Linked DNA regions of Homo sapiens. The protein of the gene in region 1 purifies or fractionates together with the protein of each later gene. This does not show direct contact. Each region holds a gene or a part of one and is shown on either strand. Other genes may lie near its edges.

Region 1 (7,652 bases):
TCCAAGGGGCAGCCAGTAGGACAGATATGAGCTGTCTCCCAAATCACCTTCATTTCACCAACTAAGCACTTCTTGATGTATTGTCCAAGCCTATCAATGTACATTCCTCACTGGCTCCTGTTAAGAGCTGATGATACAATAAAAGCAACATTTAGGAACCTTTGAAGACTCTGGAATTAAGGAGAAAGTTGAATTACCTACCCCAAGGGAGTAGTGGGAGAGTGGGGGGGGAGGCGGGGTGAGGGAGGCCTTTCTTAACCACCACATTTTTTCACTGTTAATCGTCTGTGAAAAAACTTAACAAGCTCTACTAGTTTACAGAGATGGCAGCTAGGTTGGTAGATGAAAGAAAACACAAGTACTTATCTGGTGATTAGAGGATGTCAGTCAATTAACACATTAGGTAAGAGAGGCAGCTTTCTTCCCTACACCTACCTGAGATTGGGCATCACTGGGGTAATGAATGGGTTTGGGCTTGGAGTAGTGGGGAGGAGCCCACAAGTTTTCGGGATGAAGTCAGGCCTGGCTGAGTCACCCGAGGGGCACTTAGGGAGCAGGGGGGCAGTGAACACCTCTGCATGAGCAGGGGCATAAAAACGGAAGGTGACAACATCCAGCTTTGCCTATTTCAACATTTAGCTCAGAGCCTCCAAGTACAAAGAAAGAGGAAGGAAATGTACCCTCCTTCTCTCTTCTCTTGAGCCCCCTCCTCCTCCCTAGGCCCCCCAAAATCAAACCACTCTTACTAGTACTAGCTCTCCTACACTGGTCAGCCAGAGTTAAAAGAAGGCAATTATGTCTTCCTACAGGAAGATGCTCAAGTTGCAAAAAACTCTTTATAAACTTTTGAAACACAAGCCCTTCAGGACGCAGGGGCTACTTGAGGTTTTAAAAGACCCTTGAACAGTTTCTGCGTGTTCTTAAAAACTTATTTACTGGCATCTTTCCATTGCACTTACACACCACATACACAGTATCTGTGTAATATAAACGCAGGCCAGTGCCAAAAAGATTCTTATCAATTATTCTGGGTTAAACAAGTTAACACATATGGTGGATACCTGTTAGGTCTCTAAAGCTTACTTTTTAAAAGAAGAATTAAGATTTGCTTGAAAAACAAACAAAATGAACCGGCATTCTTCTTAGAAGACCATTATCTTATACACAAATGTTCCAAAAGATGAAGCCAACAACATGATGTGCACCCCCACTTTACACAAGATCCACACACAATTGTCAAACGTGAGGATACAGTGCAATCACATCCTAATATATTCCCCCACAGGAGTGAAATAGCCAGGATGGCACACAAAAGCCCCACATTTGTTCGTGTCACTCACTATGCACTCACCTACAGGAGTCAAGATACACACAGGATTTTCTTACAAGAGATGTTTTAGGCAAGTGTGTTTGTAAAGAAAAATTTTGTTCACTGCACCCAATGTCCTCATTCGCCATAAACAGGAAAAACACGGAGACCCTCAGGTTTTTCTCTATTAAGCCAGATGCCCGCTAACTTCAGAGTCAACTGGCACTGCAATCCTCACACATTCCAGCTCCGGTATGTTACTGTTTGTGAACACAACAATTCTCTGCTCATTAACATTACAGGGGTCTCCAGCCATCTTTCCTTCACTTCTCCAAATTCATCTAAACGTGGCATAGAGCAAGACGCTCGAATGACGTTGGACAGCTTCCTTTTCACACCTGAGCCCCGGTAGCCCCACTAGGCAAAATGCAAACAGGAACCCCGGGCCTTGCTCCGCGCCCTTTGCTTCATGAAGCAACAGAAAGGCCACCTTCCTGGCTGTAAAGGCAGAAGCGCCTTCTTCCCCATAAACATCCTTGGGCAGCTCATCATTCCCCTCCTGCTCGTTCTTCTCCCTCTTCCCAGGCAGCCTGAGAAACAAAACTTAAACTGGACTTGTTGCCTAATCTAAATTAGGATCCCTCTGCTCTTCTCCGTAGCTCCATCTTCTCCCACACACCAGTTACTACAATGCGTAACTACAGATCTACACGTGTTTACGTGCAAGGTCCCCGGGGGCCTGTTCACCCTGGCACTGCCCAGGCGCCGCGCCTCGCGCTGCAGGTGTCCACGCGCGGACCACGGTATCTACCGCGCCCTCGTGTGAACACCCGACCGGGCCCCGTAATCACTCTGGGAAAGCGCCTTCAACAAAGCCCTCCGAAAGCAAGTGCTTTACTAAGTGCCCCTTGAGGCTACTGGCAGTGCGAGGCTGGCTGTCATTAGAACATTTTTCTGAACCCTCAAAAAGGTGAAAAAGCAGGACCGTGCTTTAGCAGGAACACGCACACCCGCCTAAATACCCGATTTTTGAGACTGTCCGGGCGAAGGAATTCAACGCATAGGAGCGAGCAGCCATGCAGTGTGCCTGGAGAATCACCAAACCGCGACGACCACGACCCTCAAAGCCAGTGACAAGCAGCGCGAATCTAAGCCCACCTCGGCCGCAGACCCTTCCCCGTCCCGCCAGGCCGCCGCGCCCTGTCAGCCTCCTACTGCAGGACCGCGGGGCCGCCTGCTCATCTGTCAGACGGGCGCTCGGAGGGGCCGGGAGCCAGGCTGCGGTGGGGCAGGACAAAGGCGCCCACGAACCCTCCCTGCCGCCGCCGCTCCACAGCCGCGCCGCGCCGCCAACATGGAGGGAAACGTCCGCAGTTTAAAACCCCCAGCTCCATTTCCGCAGCGGGCCCGGCTCGGGCGAGCTCCAGCCTCGCCCGCCGCCGCCCCGACCACCCGACTGGGCCAGAAAAGGCGAGGAGGGGAGGAGACGAGGAGGCGAGGAGAGGAGGGGAAGGCCGCCGCGCCAGGCCCCGCGCCCAGGGTCCCCGGCCCGGCCGCTGCGCCGGCCTCGGGCTTCCTCCCCCAGCGGCCCCTCGAAGAACGCGCCGCGGGGAGCTGGGAGCAGGGCGGGGGTGGAAGCACTCACCTGCGCCAGGTTCCGGCGGTGACACGGACGGCTCCCGGAGAATAGTCGCACAGCAACCCGGCGGCAGATCCACGCGCGCGACGCTACCCGGCCGCGCTCTCGCGCCCCGCAGTCCCGCAAGCCGGGCGCGCGCCTCCCCGGCCCCGCCTCGCGGCGCTTCTCCCCTCCCCTCGCCTCCCCTCCCCACCGGCGAGGCCGCCCGGGGCTCCCATTGGCTCCTCGACCTTTTGAATCATCCCCGGCGCTGTCGATTGGTCGCGCGCCGTGGCGCGTCCGCCCCGCCCCACCCTGCCTGGGGGCGGGGAGGCCGGTGAGCGGGGGAAACCGAGTCTGGCGGGGCGGCCCGGAGCGCGACGTTTGCCACCGCCTTATCTCAGCCGCCCAGGCGCCCTCGCAGCACACGGAGCCCGCGCGCTCCCGCCCTTTCCCTCCCAGCGCTCGCAGCAGTGTTTGGGGTGCCAGGTGGCTTGGCGAACGAGATTTTTTTTTAAGCTACAAAGAAAACTAATACATTCTTGAAGTGATCACCAAAGATCCGAGCTCGAAAGCGTTTCTCGGTAAAACACTATGAGTGCCCTCCTTAGCGTGTTAAAATCCCACAGAAGCCCCTGGACCAAGCAGCGGCATCGAAGGCGAGCAGGGGCGCTTTTGTGTCCGCGGCCGCTGAACCTGCGTAGAAGCGAACCCGGACCGATGCTGGGACCGGCGGCGGGAGGGAGGGGGAAGAATGGCCGAGGGCTCCTACGACTTACGCTGCGAGGAGGGGCTCGGTTGTTACCCGAGATGCTGTCGAGATGCAGTAGAAAATCCCCAACACCGCGGAGCGTGGAACAAGAAGTTTTATGCGTTACACACCGAAACACAACTTGACCTGCAACCTACAAGCCTGGTTTTAATTGAACCCCAAAATGCTGAGTCATGTCATTGTTGACTCCGAATCTGTTACGGATCCTAAGCTTTTTTTTTTCTGCTAGTTTTCATTATCGGTTAGTTGATTTCCTTCCTTTGAGGTCGAGAGTTTAAAGCAGTCCATTGAAGTTCCCTATTTTGCAGTGTGGTTTTAATCAAAGTATTTCTTAACACCCTAACTAGGTATATTTAAGTGAATTGCTATTTTGGAAGCATTATTAAATTGTAATAATGAATAGAACTTTTCATCTATAGCCTAGCTTCAGCTTTCATTTTCTCATAGAACTACAAAACACCCAGGTTTACTTCTTAAAAAAAAAAAAGTGAAAATACATCGAGTTTTCTCAGTCATTCACATGCAGTGTGAATGAGTTCATCAGAGCCTTTCCTGAGAAGTTCTGACATCAAATTGTCATTGCCATCGAATTTGCCCTTGGTGGAGATCTGTGCAACAGAAATGCACATCGCACTCCAAAGTCAGAAAATCTTTTATTTTTGACAAACCCCCAAGTCTCAATTGTCTTAACCCTTGACATAAGATAATATTAGTCCTACCTCATAGAGTTTTGCAGTAAATTACACAGAAATAAAAGCGCTTATGGGGACCTAAGACAGATCCTATCCCAAATAGCCAAGCAGTGAGTGCTACACTATTCTTTTCTCATATGTTCTACCCAGAATCAAGATTTCACTGGATTTCCCTTGAGGTGCACATTTCCTGGATGATTTCCACTTGTGAAATAGAAGAAGATTCGTTTCAAAAAAAAAAAAAAAAACACCTGGCCAGGCGCCGTGGCTCACGCCTATAATCCCAGCACTTTGGGAAGCCGAGGCGGTTGGATCACCTGAGCAGGAGTTCGAGACCAACTTGGCCAACATGGTGAAACCCCATCTCTACTAAAAAAATACAAAAATTAGCTGGGCACGGTGGCGAGCACCTGTAGTCCCAGCTACTCGGGAGGCTGAAGCAGAAGAATCGCTTGAACCTGGGAGGTGAAGGTTGCAATGAGCTGAGATCATGCCACTGCCACTCAGCCTGGGCAAGAAGAGCGAAACTCTGTCTCAAAAAATAAATAAAATAAATTTTTAAAAATTTTAAGAACCTTATTTTAAAGATCAGGTTTATAAAGTCTCATCATAACAAAATGAAGCCAAAACTTTGTAAATTAACTAGAGTTAGCTTAGCTAACATTTTACCTAATAAATTACTAATGACATTTTTAAAACAAAACTGATTTGACATCAGGAAAACTAAGCAATAATTTTTGTTCATTTCTACTTCGTGGACTCAAACATACCATGAACAATCAGATCTATATGTAGGCTGCTTTCTCAACAAAGGAACTGTTTGGTATTTTTCTCTTCTTTTTTAAGTCTACTAAAGGCTGTGTAAACTTGGAAGTGGGGAATTTTCAGAAAGTTCTCAGAAAGATGCTTGTCACTCACAACTAGCAAGTTGTGGGTTTTCAGAATCTATAAAGTAAAAGTCACTTAAAAGTCCGCATCTTGGCACCATTGTTGTTAATGAGGCCATGAGTGGCAAAGCCCCTTTCCCCATTCACATAACAAAAGCAAAGCAAAACCCTTCAGTCCTGCCACTAAAGCCAACCAAAACACACATGCGGCCAGGAAGCTTTCATATATAAAATACAGGAACCCCCAGCGGAATGCATTCCAATGTGGCAGTTATTTGGCTCTGGTCTCCAGAGGATCTCGGTTCCCAGGATTGAAACATCTCTTTCAGGAAAGACGTGTAGGTAAAGTTTCACGTGGCGTGAGATCCAGTTGGATTCTTTTGGTACTGTTACATAAGGAACAAACTTCTGTATGCTGCAAACTGCAGAAAGCCTTTATTCATAAGGTAGAGGTACCTCAAAAGCTGTCCGATAAAAACACATTTCTACTGATGATGTTTGATATGGTTTCTATTCACACAGAAATGGAGCTCACAATTAACATGATGCATTATGTCCATCTCAATAGCAATTTAAAAATTATTTGAAACTTCTTCTACATACTATATGTATGTTTGCAGCACTTATCCTCTTTTTTTTTTTTTTTTTTTTTTTTGAGATGGTGTCTCCCTCTGTCACCCAGGCTGGAGCGCAATGACACGATCTTGGGTCACTACTGCCTGTGCCTCCTGGGTTCAAGCAATCTTCTCACCTCAGCCCCGAGTAGCTGGGATTACAGGTGCACGCCACCATGCCCAGCTAATTTTTGTATTTTTAGAAGAGATGGGGTTTGGCCGTGTTGGCCAGGCTAGTCTCCAACTCCTGACTGCAAGTGATCTACCCACCTCGGCCTCCCAAAGTGCTGGTGAGAGGTGACAGCGTGCTGGCAGCCCTAGCAGCCCTCGCTCACTCTCTGCACCTCCTCGGCCTCGGCGCCCACTCTGGCCGCTCTTGAGGAGCCCTTCAGCCTGCCACTGCACTGTGGGAGCCCCTCTCTGGGCTGGCCGAGGCCGGAGCGGGCTCCCTCACCTTGCGGGGAGGTGTGGAGGGACAGGCGTGGGTGGGAACCAGGGCTGAGCACTGGGCTTGCAGGCCAGTGCAAGTTCCAGGTGGGCGTGGGCTCGGCAGGCCCCGCACTCGGAGCGGCTGGCCGGTTCCGCAGGCCCCAGGCAGTGAGGGGCTTAGTACCCAGGCCAGCAGCTGCGGAGGATGCGCTGGGTCTCCCAGCAGTGCCGGCCTGGCCCACCAGCGCTGTGCTGGAATTCTCGCTGGACCTCAGCTGCCTCCCCGCAGGGAAAGGCTGGGGACCTGCAGCCTGCCATGCCTGAGCCTCCCCCACACCATGGGCTCCTGAGCGGCCTGAGCCTCCCAGATGAGCGCTGCCCCCTGCTCCACGCGCCCGGTCCCATTCCGACCGCCCAAGGGCTGAGGAGTAGTGTGGGCACAGGTCGTGGGACTGGCGGGCTCCCTGATGCAGGATCCACTAGGTGAAGCCAGCTGGGCTCCTGGGTCTAGCGGGGACTTGGAGAACCTTTATGTCTAGCTAAGGGATTGTAAATACACCAATCAGCACTCTGTGTCTAGCTCAAGGTTTGTAAATGCACCAATCAGCACTGTGTATCTAGCTAATCTGGTGGGGACTTGGAGAAACTTTATGTCTAGCTAAGGGATTGTAAATACACCAGTCAGCACTCTGTGTCTTGCTCAGGGTTTGTGAACACACCAATCAGCCCCCTGTGTCTAGCTCAAGGTTTGTAAGTGCACCAATCAGTGCTCTGTGTCTAGCTAATCTAGCAGGGACTTGGAGAACCTTTATGTCTAGCTAAGGGATTGTAAATACACCAATCAGCACTCTGTGTCCAGCTCAAGGTTTGTAAATGCACCAATCAGCACCCTGTGTCTAGCTCAGGGTTTGTGAATGCACCAATCAGTGCTCTGTGTCTAGTTAATCTAGTGGGGACTTTGAGAACTTTTGTGTCTAGCTCAGGGATTGTAAACATACCAATCAGCACCCTGTCAAAACAGACCAATCAGCTCTCTGTAAAATGGACCAATCAGCAGGATGTGGGTGGGGCCAGATAAGGGAATAAAAGCAGGCTGCCCAAGCCAGCAGTGGCAAGATGCTCAGGTGTCTTTCCACTTTGTGGAAACTTTGTTCTTTTGCTGTTTGCAGTAAGTCTTGCTGCTGCTCACTCTGCATCTGCATTGCGTTTATGAGTTGTGACACTCACTGTGAAGGTCTGCAGCTTCACTCCTGAGCCAGTGAGACCACAAACCCACCAGAAGGAAGAAAAGTCTGAACACATCTGAACATCCGAAGGAACAAATTCTGGAC
Region 2 (7,046 bases), on another chromosome or scaffold:
AGGTGGCTCATAGGCAAGGAGCCAGGATGTGTGACACTCTGTCTTGACCAACCAGAGATTCTTTCTCATCTCCTAACAGAAGTTATTTCAGAGATACACAACGAGCTGTATGTATTCTGGGAACAGGCTCTGCCATTTTCTTCCCTTAACGACAGGGTCCAAAATAAATCTCCAAGGCTCCTTTGGACTCTGAGCTATCATGTCTCTTGTGTGAATCCAAGTGATGAAATCTGCGTATTTCACTATAAAACTCAAGTTCTTAGAGATCAGAACATAATGTTTTTTGTTTTTTTTTTGAGATGGAGTCTTACTCTATAGCCCAGGCTGGAATGCAATGGCATGATCTCGGCTCACTGCAACCTCTGCCTCCTGGGTTTAAGCAATTCTTCTGCCCCAGCCTCCCGAGTACCTAAGATTACAGGCTCACACCAACACACCTGGCTAATTTTTCGGTAGAGACGGGGTTTCACCATGTTGGTCAGGCTGGTCTCGAACTCCTGACCTCAGGTGATTCGCCCACCTCGGCCTCCCAAAGTGCTGGGATTATAGGCATCAGCCACCACGCCCGGCCAAAACATAAGGTTTTTAAAAATTAAAGAAATGTGAAAACACCCCAAGACTCCTCAGCTTTCTCCAGAAACAGATGAACATACCCTCAACTGATCAAGCTTCTCTCGGATCTGAATGAACCCCAAGTGTAACTTGCCACCGAAGTGGTCTGCCAGGCGACGGTCATTGTCATGGAGACCAAGGTAGGCTGAACAGACCTCGCAGACACGCAGCTTTTGCTGCTGAAAACTGGATGCAGGCATGGAATTTCTGTATTCTTCCTGAAGAAGGAAAATGGAGAAATAAAAGTGAGGTATATAGAACTGCCACCACAAATTCAATCTCCAAAATGAAAATATTTGATAAGATGACAGAGGTGACTTTTAAACAAATATTAAAAAAACACAAACAAAACTTCAGATATTTATAACCAACTCAATTTTCACTGTTTATTTAAGAAACGCGGCCAGGCACGGTCCCAGCACTTTGTGAGGCCAGGTGGGCGGACCATGTGGTCAAGAGATCAAGACCAGGCCAGGCGCGGTGGCTCACGCCTGTAATCCCAGCACTTTGGGAGGCTGAGGCTGGCGGATCACCTGAGGTCCGGAGTTCAAGATCAGCCTGACCAACATGGAGAAACCCCATCTCTATTAAAAATACAAAAGTAGCCGGGTGTGGTGGCGCATGCCTGTAATCCCAGCTATTCTGGAGGCTGAGGCAGGAGAATGGCTTGAACTCGGGAGGCGGAGGTTGCTGTTGAGCTGAGATCGCACAGGCAACAAGAGCAAAACCCTGTCTCAAAAAAAAAAAAAAAAAAAAAAAGAGAGATCGAGACCATCCTGGCCAACTTTGTGAAACCCCGTCTCTACTAAAAATACAAAAATCAGCTGGGTGTGGTGGCACATGCCTGTAGTCCCAGCTACTCAGGAGGCTGAGGCAGGAGAATCACTTGAACCTGGGAAGCGGAGGTTGCAGTGAGCCAAAACCGTGCCACTGCATTCCAGCCTGGCAACAGAGCGAGACTCCATCTTAAAAAAAAAAGGTACTAACAGGCTGGGCTCAGTGGCTCACGCCTGTAATCCCAGCATTCCGAGGCCAAGGCAGACAGATCACTTGAGGCCAGGAGTTCAAGACGAGCCTGGCAACATAGCAAAACCCTGTCTCTACTAAAAATACAAAAATTGGCCGGGCGCGGTGGCTCACGCCTGTAATCCCAGCACTTTGGGAGGCTGAGGCAGGCGAATCATGGGGTCAGGAGATCACGACCATCCTGGCTAACACGGTGAAACCCCGTCTCTACTAAAAAAACAGAAAAAATTAGCTGGGCGTGGTGGCGGGCGCCTGTAGTCCCAGCTACTCAGGAGGCTGAGGCAGGAGAATGGCGTGAACCCGGCAGGCGGAGCTTGTAGTGAGCCAAGATCATGCCACTGGGCGAAAGAGCGAGACTCCGTCTCAAAAGAAAAAAAAAAAAAAAAAGCCAGATGGTGGCAGGCATCTGTAATTCCAGCTACTGGAGAGGCTGAGGCACAAATTGTTTAAGCCCAGGAGGTGGAGGTTGCAGTGAGCTGAGATCACACCACTGCATTCCAACCTGGAGGACAGAGGAAAACTCCAAAAAGGAAAAAAAAAAAATTGTATTCCAGGCCTGGTGTAGTGACTCACACCTATAATCTCAGCACTTTAGGAGAGTGAAGCAAGAAGATCACTTGGCCCCAGGAGATTGAGATCACCCTGAGCAACACAGCAAGACTCAGTCTCTAAAAATAAGAAAATAATTAGCCCGCTGTGGTGGCACGTGCCTATAGTCCCACCTACTCAAGAGACTGATTCGAGAGGACTGCTTGAGCCCAGGAGGTTGAAGGGGCAGTGACCTGTGACTGCGCCACTGTACTTCAGCCTGGGTGACCCTGGCTGACAGCAGGACCCTCTAATATTAAAAAAAATAGGCTGGGCACAGTGGCTAACACCTGCAATCCCAGCACTTTGGGAGGCCAAGGCAGGTGGATCACAAGGTCAGGAGTCCGAGAAGGTGAAACCCCGTCTCTATTAAAAATACAAAAAAATTAGCTGGGCACGGTGGCTGGCACCTGTAATCCCAGCTACTCGGGAGGCTGAGTCTGAGAATTACTTGAACCCGGGAGTCAGAGGATGCAGTGAGCCGAGATCGCACCACAGCAATCCAGCCTGGGCGACAGAGCGAGACTCTGTCTGAGAAAAAAAAAAAAAAAAAAGTAGACAAGGAACTAGCAAGAACTTGAATTTCCATTATAGTATGCTACATAACTAAAAAAAAAAAAAAAAAAAAAAAACTTAAGCAAAAACAATATTGTGGTACACAAATATTCATAACATTACTCTGTCCCCTTCTATAGTTTTGAAACCTTAAATGCCACCTTCTAACATCTTTCAAAATAAACTCTGATTATGTTGAGTAAAAAAAGTCAGTCCCAAAAGGTTACCTACTGTATGATTCCATTTACATAACTTTTTTTTTTTTTTTGAGACGGAGTCTCGCTCTGTCGCCCAGCCTGGAATGCAGTGGCACGATCTCAGCTCACTACAAGCTCTGCCTCCCGGGTCCACACCATTCACCTGCCTCAGCCTCCTGAGTAGCTGGGACTACAAGCGCACGCCGCCACGCCCGGCCAATTTTTTGTATTTTTAGTAGAGACGGAGTATCACCATGTTAGCCAGGATGGTCTCGATCTCCTGACCTCGTGATCCACCCGCCTCAGCCTCCCAAAGTGATGGGATTACAGGCGTGAGCCACCGCACCAGGCTTTTTTTTTTTTTTTTTTTTTTTTGAGAGAGAGTCTTGCTCTGTCACCCATATTGGAGTGCAATGGCACGATCTCTGTTCGCTGCAACCTCCGCCTTCTGGGTTCAAGCGATTCTCCTACTTCAGCCTCCCAAGTAGCTGGGATTACAGGTGCCCGCCACCACACCTGGCTAATTTTTATACTTTTAGTAGAAATGGGGTTTCACCAAGTTGGCCAGGCTGGTCTCGAACTCCTGACCTCAGGTGATGCACCTACCTTGGCCTCCCAAAGTGCTGGGATTACAGGCATGAGCAACCGTGCCCGGCCATATTTTTAATTTCTTTGTAAAGATGGGGTATCCCTATGTTGCCCAGGCTGGTCTCAAACTCCTGGACTCAAGCAATCCTCCTGCCTCGACCTTCCAAAGTGTTGAGATTACAGGCATGAGCCACCATACCCACCCTCCATAAGCTTTTACGCTGGGCAGAAGGCAGCAAAAGGGGAGTCAGCATATCACATGGCAAAAGAAGGAGTGAGACAGAGAGAAGGACCTAGGCTCCTTTAAACAATCAGCTCTGAGGTGAACTCACTATCCCAGGGAGGGCACCAAGCCATTGATGAGTGAACCACCCCCATGACCCAAACACCTCCCACTAGACCCCACCTCCAACATTGGAGGTCACATTTCAACATGAGATTTGGACGTGCCACACATCCAAACCGTATCAAGTGTTATTTTTTATCTTTTATACTGTATTTTTACTGTACCTTTTCTATGTTTACGTACACAAATATTTAGGGGCCCACTGTGTTGCAACTGCCTATAGTATTCAGCACAGTAACATGCTGTACAGGTGTGGAGCCTAGGAGCAATGGGCTCTACCATACAGCCCACATGGCTATACCACCCAGGTTTGTTAAGCACACTCTATAATGTTCTCACAATGATGAACCATGGAACGCACTTCTCAGAATATTTAATCCTTGTCATTAAGAAAGATATGACTGTACTAATATCAGAAATGAAAGACAGGACATCATTACGGATCCACCCACTTTAAAGGAATAATACAAACAACTCTTAAAAACAACAACTCCATGCCCACAAAAGCGATAAACTAGATGAAATGGACCGATCCCTTCAAAGACAGCCAGGAGCAGTGGCTCACGCCTGTAATCCCAGCACTGTGGGAGGCTGAGGCAGGTGGATCACTTGAGGTCAGGAGTTTGAGACCAGCCTGACCGACATGGTGAAACCCCGTCTTCTCTACTAAAAATACAAAAATTAGCTGGGCATGGTGGCAGGCACCTGTAATCTCAGCTGCTCAGGAGGCTGAGGCAGGATAATCAGTTGAACCCAGGAGTTGGAGGTTGCAGCGAGCCATCGCACCACCGCACTCCAGCCTGGGCAACAGAGAGAGACTCCGTGTAAAAAAAAAGTATAATAATGTTGAAAGACACAATCTGCCAAAACTCACACAAGAAGAAACAGATGATCTGAATGAATCTGTATATTAATAACCTTCCAAAACAGAAAGCATCAGGTCCAGATGGGTTTACTGGTGAATTCTACCAAAGCATTAGGGAGCAAATCATGCCAATTCTCTACAATCGCTTTCAGAAAATAGAAGCAGAGAGAGTATCTTCTAACTCCTTCTATGGGGACATTACCATAATACCAAAACCAGATAAAGGTATTACAAGAGGCCAGGCATCATGGTGACTCATGACTCTAATCCCAGCACTTTGGGAAGCAGAGCTAGGCAGATCGCTTGAGCCAAGGATTTCAAGACCAGCCTTGACAACATGGCGAAACCCAGTCTCTCCAAAAAATACAAAAAATTAGCTGGGCTTGGTGGCATGTGCCTTCAGTCCTAGCTATTTGAAAGGCTGAGGCGGGAGAATCAAATGAGCCCAGGAGATCAAGCCTTCAGTGAGCCAAGATCGCGCCACTGCACTCCAGCCTGGGTGAGAAAGTGAGACCGTCTCAGGGCGGGGGGCGGGGTGGAGGTGGGGAGGGCTGGGCGCGGTGGCTCACACCTGTAATCCCAGCACTTTGAGAGGCCAAGGCAGGCGGATCATGAGGTCAGGAGATAGAGGCCATCCTGGCTAACACGGTTAAATCATATCTCTACTAAAAACACAAAAAATTAGCCAGGTATGGTGGCACACGCCTATAGTCTCAGCTACTCGGGAGGCTGAGGCAGGAGAATCGCTTGAGCCCGGGAGGCGGAGGTTGCAGTGAGCCGAGATCACGCCACTGCACTCCAGCCTGGGCGAATGAATGAGACTCCATCTCAAAAAAACACAAAAACAAAAACCAAAAAACAAATGACCAATTACACCAGCACCCGCAAGCATGAAATATTTAGGTAGAAATCTAACAAAACATGCATGAGATCTTCACTATGAGAAAAATTACAAGACTCATAAAAGGTATCAAATGGCCTGGCGAAGTGGCTCACGCCTGTGATCCCAGCACTTTGGGAGGCCAAGGCAGACGGATCACCTGAGGTCAGAAGTTTGAGACCAGCTTGGCCAACACGGTGAAACCCCATCCCTACTAGAAATGAAAAAAAAAAAAAAAAATTAGCCATGGGCCGAGCATGGTGGCTCACTCCTGTAATCCCAGCAGTTTGGGAGACCGAGGCGGGTGGACCACGAGGTCAGATTGAGACCATCCTGGCTAACACAGTGAAACCCCATCTCTACTGAAAGTACAAAAAAATTAGCCGGGCGTGGTGGTGGGCGCCTGTAGTCTCAGCTACTCTGGAGGCTGAGGCAGGAGAATGGTGTGAACCGAGGAAGCGGAGCTTGCAGTGAACTGAGATCGCACCACTGCACTCCAGCCTGGGGGACAGAGCGAGACTCCATCTCAAAAAAAAAAAAAAGAGAGAAAATTATAAGGAAGAGAAAATAAAATACATTTATAGTACTGTGCTGTACTGATCACTTCTGTACGTTTACACTGCTCATTTACAAGATGAATTGTCCGTCTGAAATGGTAGCAACTGCAGCTGCAGACCTCAATCTAATGTATACATCAAGCAACTCAACTTTTTCTTGTAATATCATGGCTGTTCTTGCCTTCTTGGGAGCATTTTCAGCATCACTAGTGGCATATGGATCCTATGGCATTACTCAAAGTTTATGGTATTGCACTAAACACGATGAAAAACGCCTAGGAACCCTGTGAGTTCACTTTTTACTGCAGTAGGAATGTACTGGAGAGGTGAACTGCTCCTTCGGAGATGATGAGTGTCACGTGGTGTTTCAAGGGGATACTCACGACCCTTGAGCTCCACACAATGGCAACAGGAAGTGGCATGAATTATTACAGTAGTACAGTACCTATTACAGTTATTCTTAGGCAGCCCTGATTTAATACTGCACCTCTGCACTACGTTTGTTAACATCTCTCTACGGCGAATGCTGTCATGTATGGTCTGTAAGCGTTTGCATGTAGCCTCTTCTTTTTTAGAGACAGGGTCTTGCTATGTTATCCAGGCTGGACTCCAAAAGTCCTAGGATTAAGGGATCCTCTCATCTCAGCCTCCCGAACAGCTGAGACTAAAGCCAAGAGCCACCATAGCTGGCCATATGCTTAAGTTTTGACAAATGTTACCTTTTCATAATAGACTTGTGTATATTTTATGGCAGTAAATAAAAGACTAGTATCCTCATATATTTTATGTATTCATGACATACCTAACATTTTCTGCAGACTTTGGGTGATAA
Region 3 (3,925 bases), on another chromosome or scaffold:
TCCTGATGGTGAGGATGTTTGATTAGTTCATCTACAGGATTTGATCTTAGCTTGAAGACTATTGATGCTGATGGTTCCCAGGGCAGTTGTTTGAAGGCTGCAGGACAGAGGTCCAGCAATGCCAAAGAGGGGCGGTCATCATGACAAACTACACTACTGAACTAATTGAAACTGGACTCAGGAGACCTCATCTAATGTGTAGAATTCTCATTGATTACAACTTTTATCAGATATCTTTCATGACTAGAATACAATTTAAGCTAATTATTTTCCTGTTTAAACCTAGGCCTGTGATACTTGGGCTGTGATCCTCTAGAGCCAGCTTGGACTCACATCATTCTATGGGGTTGAAGACAACTCATTCCCTCTGAGGAGCCTTGTACATACAAGCCTTTTATTTATAACTTATTTTGTATTGAAACTTTTAAACAATACTGAAGAAAAAAAAACTTTTCCGACATCTGTTCTTGGTCTTTTGTGACGCAGGTTGAAGGGGGAGGAATAGAAAAAGACAAACTGCCTTGGAGGAGATAAACCAATTTTATGTCTATCATGTTATACAAAAATCTAGAAATAATAGATTTGTACAGAAAAAAATGATAATAAATGAGAACACAAAACATATAATTTAAATTTGGTATTTTTTCCCCCATGATATTAGGATGATAATCATTTCAAAGCACATGTCTAGCTTCAGAGTAGGATTTGTTCACTGGCCAAAGCCTGCCATGAAACTATGGCTTTCAGCATCTGTCTGCTCTACTGGCTCTTGACAAAACTCTTGAGGTCTTCAAGAAAAGTAATGTACTCCTGGTGCTCCAGGGCTGTGCTGAGCTCCACCAGCTCATCTGCAAAAGTGTTGTCCACCCCTCGGTCGGCAAGGAAATCCATTAGGTGGTCATATAAGGCCTGCAAAGAACAATATTTACTAGTTAAAAAAAAATCTGTAATGAACATTAAAATGCTTTTTTCTCCCCTTGAACTAGGACCCTTCCTTCCAAGGCCCAAAAGGTTCCCCCACCTTATCAAGCACTCACCCAGTCCAAGGAATCTGTGTTGAGTGTATAATTAGTATCCTTCCATTCAGACTCGCCAGTGGACTGAAAGCTAACTTCCCTGATAGAGAAGATGTCACTCTCAGCCTCGTCTTCTTGTCCAACCTGAGAAGAAACAATATTGGGAAACTGAAGGGTTCTCCAGGACAAGCTAGACTCAGGGGAAGAAAGGGGGCCACTGACAGCATGAAACTCATCAGGTTTTAACCCTCTTCCCTCACTCCCCACCTCTCTCCCCCTGCTGGGCTGGTCTAAGCTAGAAAAGTGTTTAAATTTCTGCTAAAATAGGGACAGGAAGTTCCCAAGGGACACACTGTTCCCCAGGGGTGCCAAGAGGCTAGCACTCCATCCTGCATACCTCATCCTCTGGATAATGACAGTCCAACACAAGGGCCTTCTTGCCATCATCATTCTTTATAACTTCAACCACGAAATTGGGAGTTGATGTCAGTTCAGGCTGGGGAAACAAGAAGTCAATACATGCTGCTGCTGGAAGGAGATGGATGGCTGGATCAAGGATCTCTGTTCAGAGTGTCTGATGGCCACCACTATTAGGATATTATGTAGCCATTTGAATAGTCTTATGCCATACTATTCCCAAATGAAGAGCTTGATCTCACTTCTGTTGGCACCCTGCTTGGTTAAATAACACACTGGGTTTTCAGTTAAGAAATGTGGATACCAGCCTCAGCTATGTGCCAATTAACTGAGTTTATATCAGTCCCTTAACATTCCAAGCCTTTTCCTCCACCCGTACACTGCAAAGCTTTCCTAAAGTTTCAAGATCTCTTTCCAGCTTGACTGTTCCAGGAGTCTTCATAAGGGACCAGGGTCAAAGGCTGGGGAACCTGGCCATCCTTATGGCTGAATAACAGCAGCAGCTTTTCCTCTGATGCGGAGCTCTGGGAGCAGACTGGGTCCAACGTCAGGGAGATGCTAGTTGGGGTGGCTGGGAAAGCAGCACACCAGAGAGCTGCGCCGTCCACACCAGGTCATGACCCAACACTGTACTGATGGCTCTTGGGCAGAATGTCTAGGGACTCTGTGGCCCTCATACTGGCTGGTTACTAGGCTGGGCACAGCACTTCCTGAAATGTTTGAAGAGTAGGCATGATCCAGTTAAAGTCTCTTATGCCCCTGCCATTCTCTCTCTCTTTTTTTTTTTTTTTTTTTTTTGAGACAGAGTCTTGCTCTGTCGCCAGGCTGGAGTGCAGTGGTGTGATCTTGGCTCACCGCAACCTCTGCCTCCCGGGTTCAAGCGATTCTCCTGCCTCAGCCTCCCGAGTAGCTGGGATTACAGGGACCTGCCACCATGCCCAGCTAATTTTTGTATTTTTAGTAGAGACGGGGTTTCACCATGTTGGCCAGGATGGTCTCGATCTCTTGACCTCGTGATCTGCCCGTCTCGGCCTCCCAAAGTGCTGGGATTATAGGCGTGAGCCATGCGACTGGACTTAGAGGAATTTTTTTTTTTTGAAAGACCAAAGAAAAACGCTCCTCCTCTAAGCCCCAGGCACAGCCTGTCAGAACTGAGGTAAAAGCTGATTATAGTATTAGCTTACCTCCTGTTCTTCAACCTTCTGCCCTTGCGAGGGTTCCTCCTCACCATCAAATGTTGGTGGGATGCTGTTGTTAATGTTGAAAGTGACCGTGATTCTAAAACGGCAAGGGAAAACAGACAAGGCAAAACAGACAAGGCATGGTTTTAACCGAGCAGGTTAACACATAAACATGGAAATCTGCTACAGTTAAAAAGGCGTATTGAAACAATGTCTCTGTCCTAGCTGGCTGAATTATATGCAGAACTTCAAACTAGGCTGGGTGCCTACATCCAATCCTGAGTGACTCAGCAGGTCTGAAGTGTGCCTACCATGTACCAGCTGCTGGAAGCCAAAGCTGGCCTCAGTTTATCTCAGCCAAACAAGTCATGCATGGGTTACTCCCAACAGGGCCAGTACCCCAGGGCTCACTGCCATGTGCTGACTGGGCATCTCATGGCCACAGCCAGCTGACACTGCCCACCCTGGTCTTTCCAGGGAACCCTTGGTCAAAGTAAGGACCTGAGAGGCTGGTGAGATGGAACAGAAGCCCCTTTAAGAGACTTTCCCCGTCAGAAAATTTGCCCTGCAAGGAAAGGAAGAAGCGATGGAGGGTGCCTCTGCTAAACACCGAGAGCAGCCCTGGAACGGGGAAGGGAATGCCTCACAAAGAACAAGGGCTGTAGTAGAGACTCATCCCTTAGAGTACTTGTGGGAAGTTTCATAATCACAAAGCAGGCCAGACACACCAACTAGTGACAATTTTAAGGTGCAAGAATCCACACCTGACAAATCATGTTCCAAAGTTTGAGTCAAAATTCTTGGGACATAAGGTTTAGAACCAAAACTGCTGGGCTATGCAACTCTGGCAGGCACCATTCCACACAAGAGTACATGAAGGCTGGGCGCAGTGGCTCACGCCTGTAATCCCAGCACTTTGGGAGGCCGAGGTGGGCAGATCACGAGGTCAAGAGATCGAGACCATCCTGGCCAACACGATGAAACTCCATCTCTACTAAAAAATACAAAAAAAAAAAAAAAAAAAAAATTAGCTGGGCGTGGTGGTACGCGCCTGTAATCCCAGCTACTCAGGAGGCTGAGGCAGGAGAATTGCTTGAACCTGGGAGGTGGAGGTTGCAGTGAGCCGAGATCACGCCACTGCTCTCCAGCCTGGAGACACAGCAAGACTCTGTCAGAAAAAAAAAAAAAAAAAAAAGAGTACATGAAGTGCCGCCCTCCACTTGTGCTAACTAGCTGCTCTGCCAGGAAGCCACCTTTCCATGGCAACAGAGGCAGTCTGAGGTTGACAAAATCTGTCTAATTCCAACTGTG
Region 4 (2,648 bases), on another chromosome or scaffold:
GAATAAATCATTGCAAGCTGTGTGTGCATGCCTGGGCCTTATGAGCTGATAGACTTCACTATAAGGAGATTAGGTGGGAACCTGGTGATCTCTTTGTGGGGATTGGAAAGTCTTCCCTCTGGATGGGGGAGAAATTTGGCAGATGATCTAAGCATCTTCACACAGATTTTCATTCATTTCCCCTATATTCACTCTTGCCTCTGTGGTGCCTGTATCACCACTTCCTAAACCTTTCTGGGGTTCTGCTGTGTGGATCAGTTTGCATCCCTTGGGGGTCCCTTCTGTCAGCACTTGGTATTCAGCTCTCTTGAACTCTTAACTCTTCATCTTCTTTCTTTTTTTTTTTTTGAGACAGAGTCTCGCTCTGTCACCCAGGCTAGAGTGCAGTGGCGTGATCTCAGCTCACTGCAAGCTCTGCCTCCTGGGTTCAGGCTATTCTCCTGCCTCAGCCTCCCTAGTAGCTGGGACTACAGGCATCCACCACCACACTCGGCTAATTTTTTGTATTTTTAGTAGAGACAGGGTTTCGCCATGTTAGCCAGGATGGTCTTGATCTCCTGACCTTGTGATCCGCCCGCCTCGGCCTCTCAAAGTGCTGGGATTACAGGCGTAAGCCACTGCGCCCAGCCAACTCTTCATCTTCTATCTTCCAAAACTTCTGTGTTTGCATTTGGCTAGTGTTGTGTAGTTTCCAGTTCTTTCCTCTTGGGAGTTTTCTTTGTCAGTCTTTCCTCTTCTTTCCTTCATTTGTTTCTTAATTTCTTTTCTCTCATTTTGTAATATTTCAGGTGGAAGTGCAAATAAGCATGTGTTCAGTTTACTATGTTTAAGTGGAAGAACAAGTTCAAAGTCATGTTTATTAGACCAAATAATCCTCATTCCTGTTATCACTCCCCATACAGCAAAAATTTGTTGTCACTTTGTCATGTCACCAAATTTCTATTTTAGTTGCTTATATCTGGATATCCTCCACCTTCAGAACACTGTGTTTGCTGTTCTAAATGTGGGAGAATTATGGTTTTGTACAAATAATATATTTTCCTTTTCAGTATAATACCCTCTGATAAAACACAGTGTTTTGGCTGTGGCGGTTCATTGAGCTAGAAATTAAGTCCTGTAAGTCTATGTACACATCCCAGCAGGGTTCTTTTCAAAGAGCATTAGCTTCCCCCTGCCTTGTTCTTCTCTCCCACCATTCTTTGTCCTCACAGGCAGAGGAGATGCTGAAGAAGAAACCTCGGGCCACCACTGAGGTGAGCAGCAGGAAATGCCAACAAGCCCTGGCAGAACTGGAGAGTGTCCTCAGCCACCTGGAGGACTTCTTTGCACGGACACTAGTACCGCGAGTGCTGATTCTCCTTGGGGGCAATGCCCTAAGCCCCAAGGAGTTCTATGAACTCGACTTGTCTCTGCTGGCCCCCTACAGCGTGGACCAGAGCCTGAGCACAGCAGCTTGTTTGCGCCGTCTCTTCCGAGCCATATTCATGGCTGATGCCTTTAGCGAGCTTCAGGCTCCTCCACTCATGGGCACCGTCGTCATGGCACAGGGACACCGCAACTGTGGAGAAGATTGGTTTCGACCCAAGCTCAACTATCGAGTGCCCAGCCGGGGCCATAAACTGACTGTGACCCTGTCATGTGGCAGACCTTCCATCCGAACCACGGCTTGGGAAGACTACATTTGGTTCCAGGCACCAGTGACATTTAAAGGCTTCCGCGAGTGAATGAGTGCTTCTTAATCCTAAAAACACAATGGCTGAATTATCTTTCTCCATGTGGCGCTGAATCACCCATCTGGTTTGGAGCTAGAGTTGCTTCCTGGTGAGAGAGGAAGCAACTCTCCTTCTGGTTGTCTGCCTCCCCTCAGATTTCCTGATAGGCTGATGGCATGTGGCTGTGACTGTGACTGTAATCATTGCTGAACAACATCTCTTTGAATCAAAGGTTGATTTTCCCAGAGGGTGCTGGGTCAGGCATTTCTATTAGGAGTTGGAAAGCAAAAATGGGTCCATAGACACTCTATGGAGGTGTCCCTTTCTGCTCTTTGCTGTGTCCTTTCAGAATTTTTACCAGGAACATAATGTGGATGTGACTTATGAACTTAAATATAAAATAAATAGATTCTTATTATATTTTCCTGAAATTGTTTTGACTTAACTTGTCAGGTTTTAGGCTATTTTGTCTTTCTCCTTGGCCTCTTCTGCTTCAGGGCTTCTCGAATTTTTTTTTTTTTTCTTTTTTCTTTTTTGAGATGGAGTCTCGCTGTATCGCCCAGGCTGGAGTACAGTGGCACAATCTTGGTCGCTGCAACCTCCACCTCCCAGGTTCAAGGAATTCTCCTGTCTTAGCCTCTCGAGTAGCTGAGATTGCAGGTGTGCACCACCACGCCCAGCTAATTTTTGTATTTTTAGTAGAGATGGAGTTTCACCATGTTGGCCAGGCTGGTCTCGAACTCCTGCCCTCAAGTGATCCACCTGTCTTGGCCTCCCAAAGTGCTGGGATTACAGGTGTGGGCCACCGTGCCTGGCCTTAGGATTTTTTTACTAATGATTTTTTCTCTTGTTCAGCCCCAGGCTAGTCTAGGAAATTAAGTGACTTGGCCAAGTGCATATGTAGTTTGATAGCAGAGTTAGGACTAGAGTCCTCAT

Evidence for each region.
Region 2: the proteins of LBR (region 1) and LUC7L purify together in Homo sapiens (affinity purification with mass spectrometry; 3 studies listed by BioGRID and IntAct, with this or other methods). This does not show direct contact.
Region 3: the proteins of LBR (region 1) and C1QBP purify together in Homo sapiens (co-immunoprecipitation; 2 studies listed by BioGRID and IntAct, with this or other methods). This does not show direct contact.
Region 4: the proteins of LBR (region 1) and MAD2L1BP purify together in Homo sapiens (co-immunoprecipitation; 4 studies listed by BioGRID and IntAct, with this or other methods). This does not show direct contact.

The regions. Positions count from the first base shown.
Region 1 is NC_000001.11:225,425,000-225,432,651, forward strand, and holds the start of LBR (delta(14)-sterol reductase LBR), read right to left. Parts: upstream 3,040-7,652; 5' UTR 2,955-3,039; intron 2,894-2,954; exon of another isoform or gene 2,332-2,893; intron 1-2,331. UniProt on the Homo sapiens protein: Catalyzes the reduction of the C14-unsaturated bond of lanosterol, as part of the metabolic pathway leading to cholesterol biosynthesis.
Region 2 is NC_000016.10:198,409-205,454, forward strand, and holds part of LUC7L (putative RNA-binding protein Luc7-like 1), read right to left. Parts: intron 831-7,046; coding exon 654-830; intron 1-653. UniProt on the Homo sapiens protein: May bind to RNA via its Arg/Ser-rich domain.
Region 3 is NC_000017.11:5,432,256-5,436,180, forward strand, and holds the end of C1QBP (complement component 1 Q subcomponent-binding protein, mitochondrial precursor), read right to left. Parts: intron 2,712-3,925; coding exon 2,618-2,711; intron 1,513-2,617; coding exon 1,414-1,512; intron 1,161-1,413; coding exon 1,038-1,160; intron 910-1,037; coding exon 760-909; 3' UTR 522-759; downstream 1-521.
Region 4 is NC_000006.12:43,638,810-43,641,457, forward strand, and holds the end of MAD2L1BP (MAD2L1-binding protein), read left to right. Parts: intron 1-1,211; coding exon 1,212-1,724; 3' UTR 1,725-2,132; downstream 2,133-2,648. UniProt on the Homo sapiens protein: May function to silence the spindle checkpoint and allow mitosis to proceed through anaphase by binding MAD2L1 after it has become dissociated from the MAD2L1-CDC20 complex.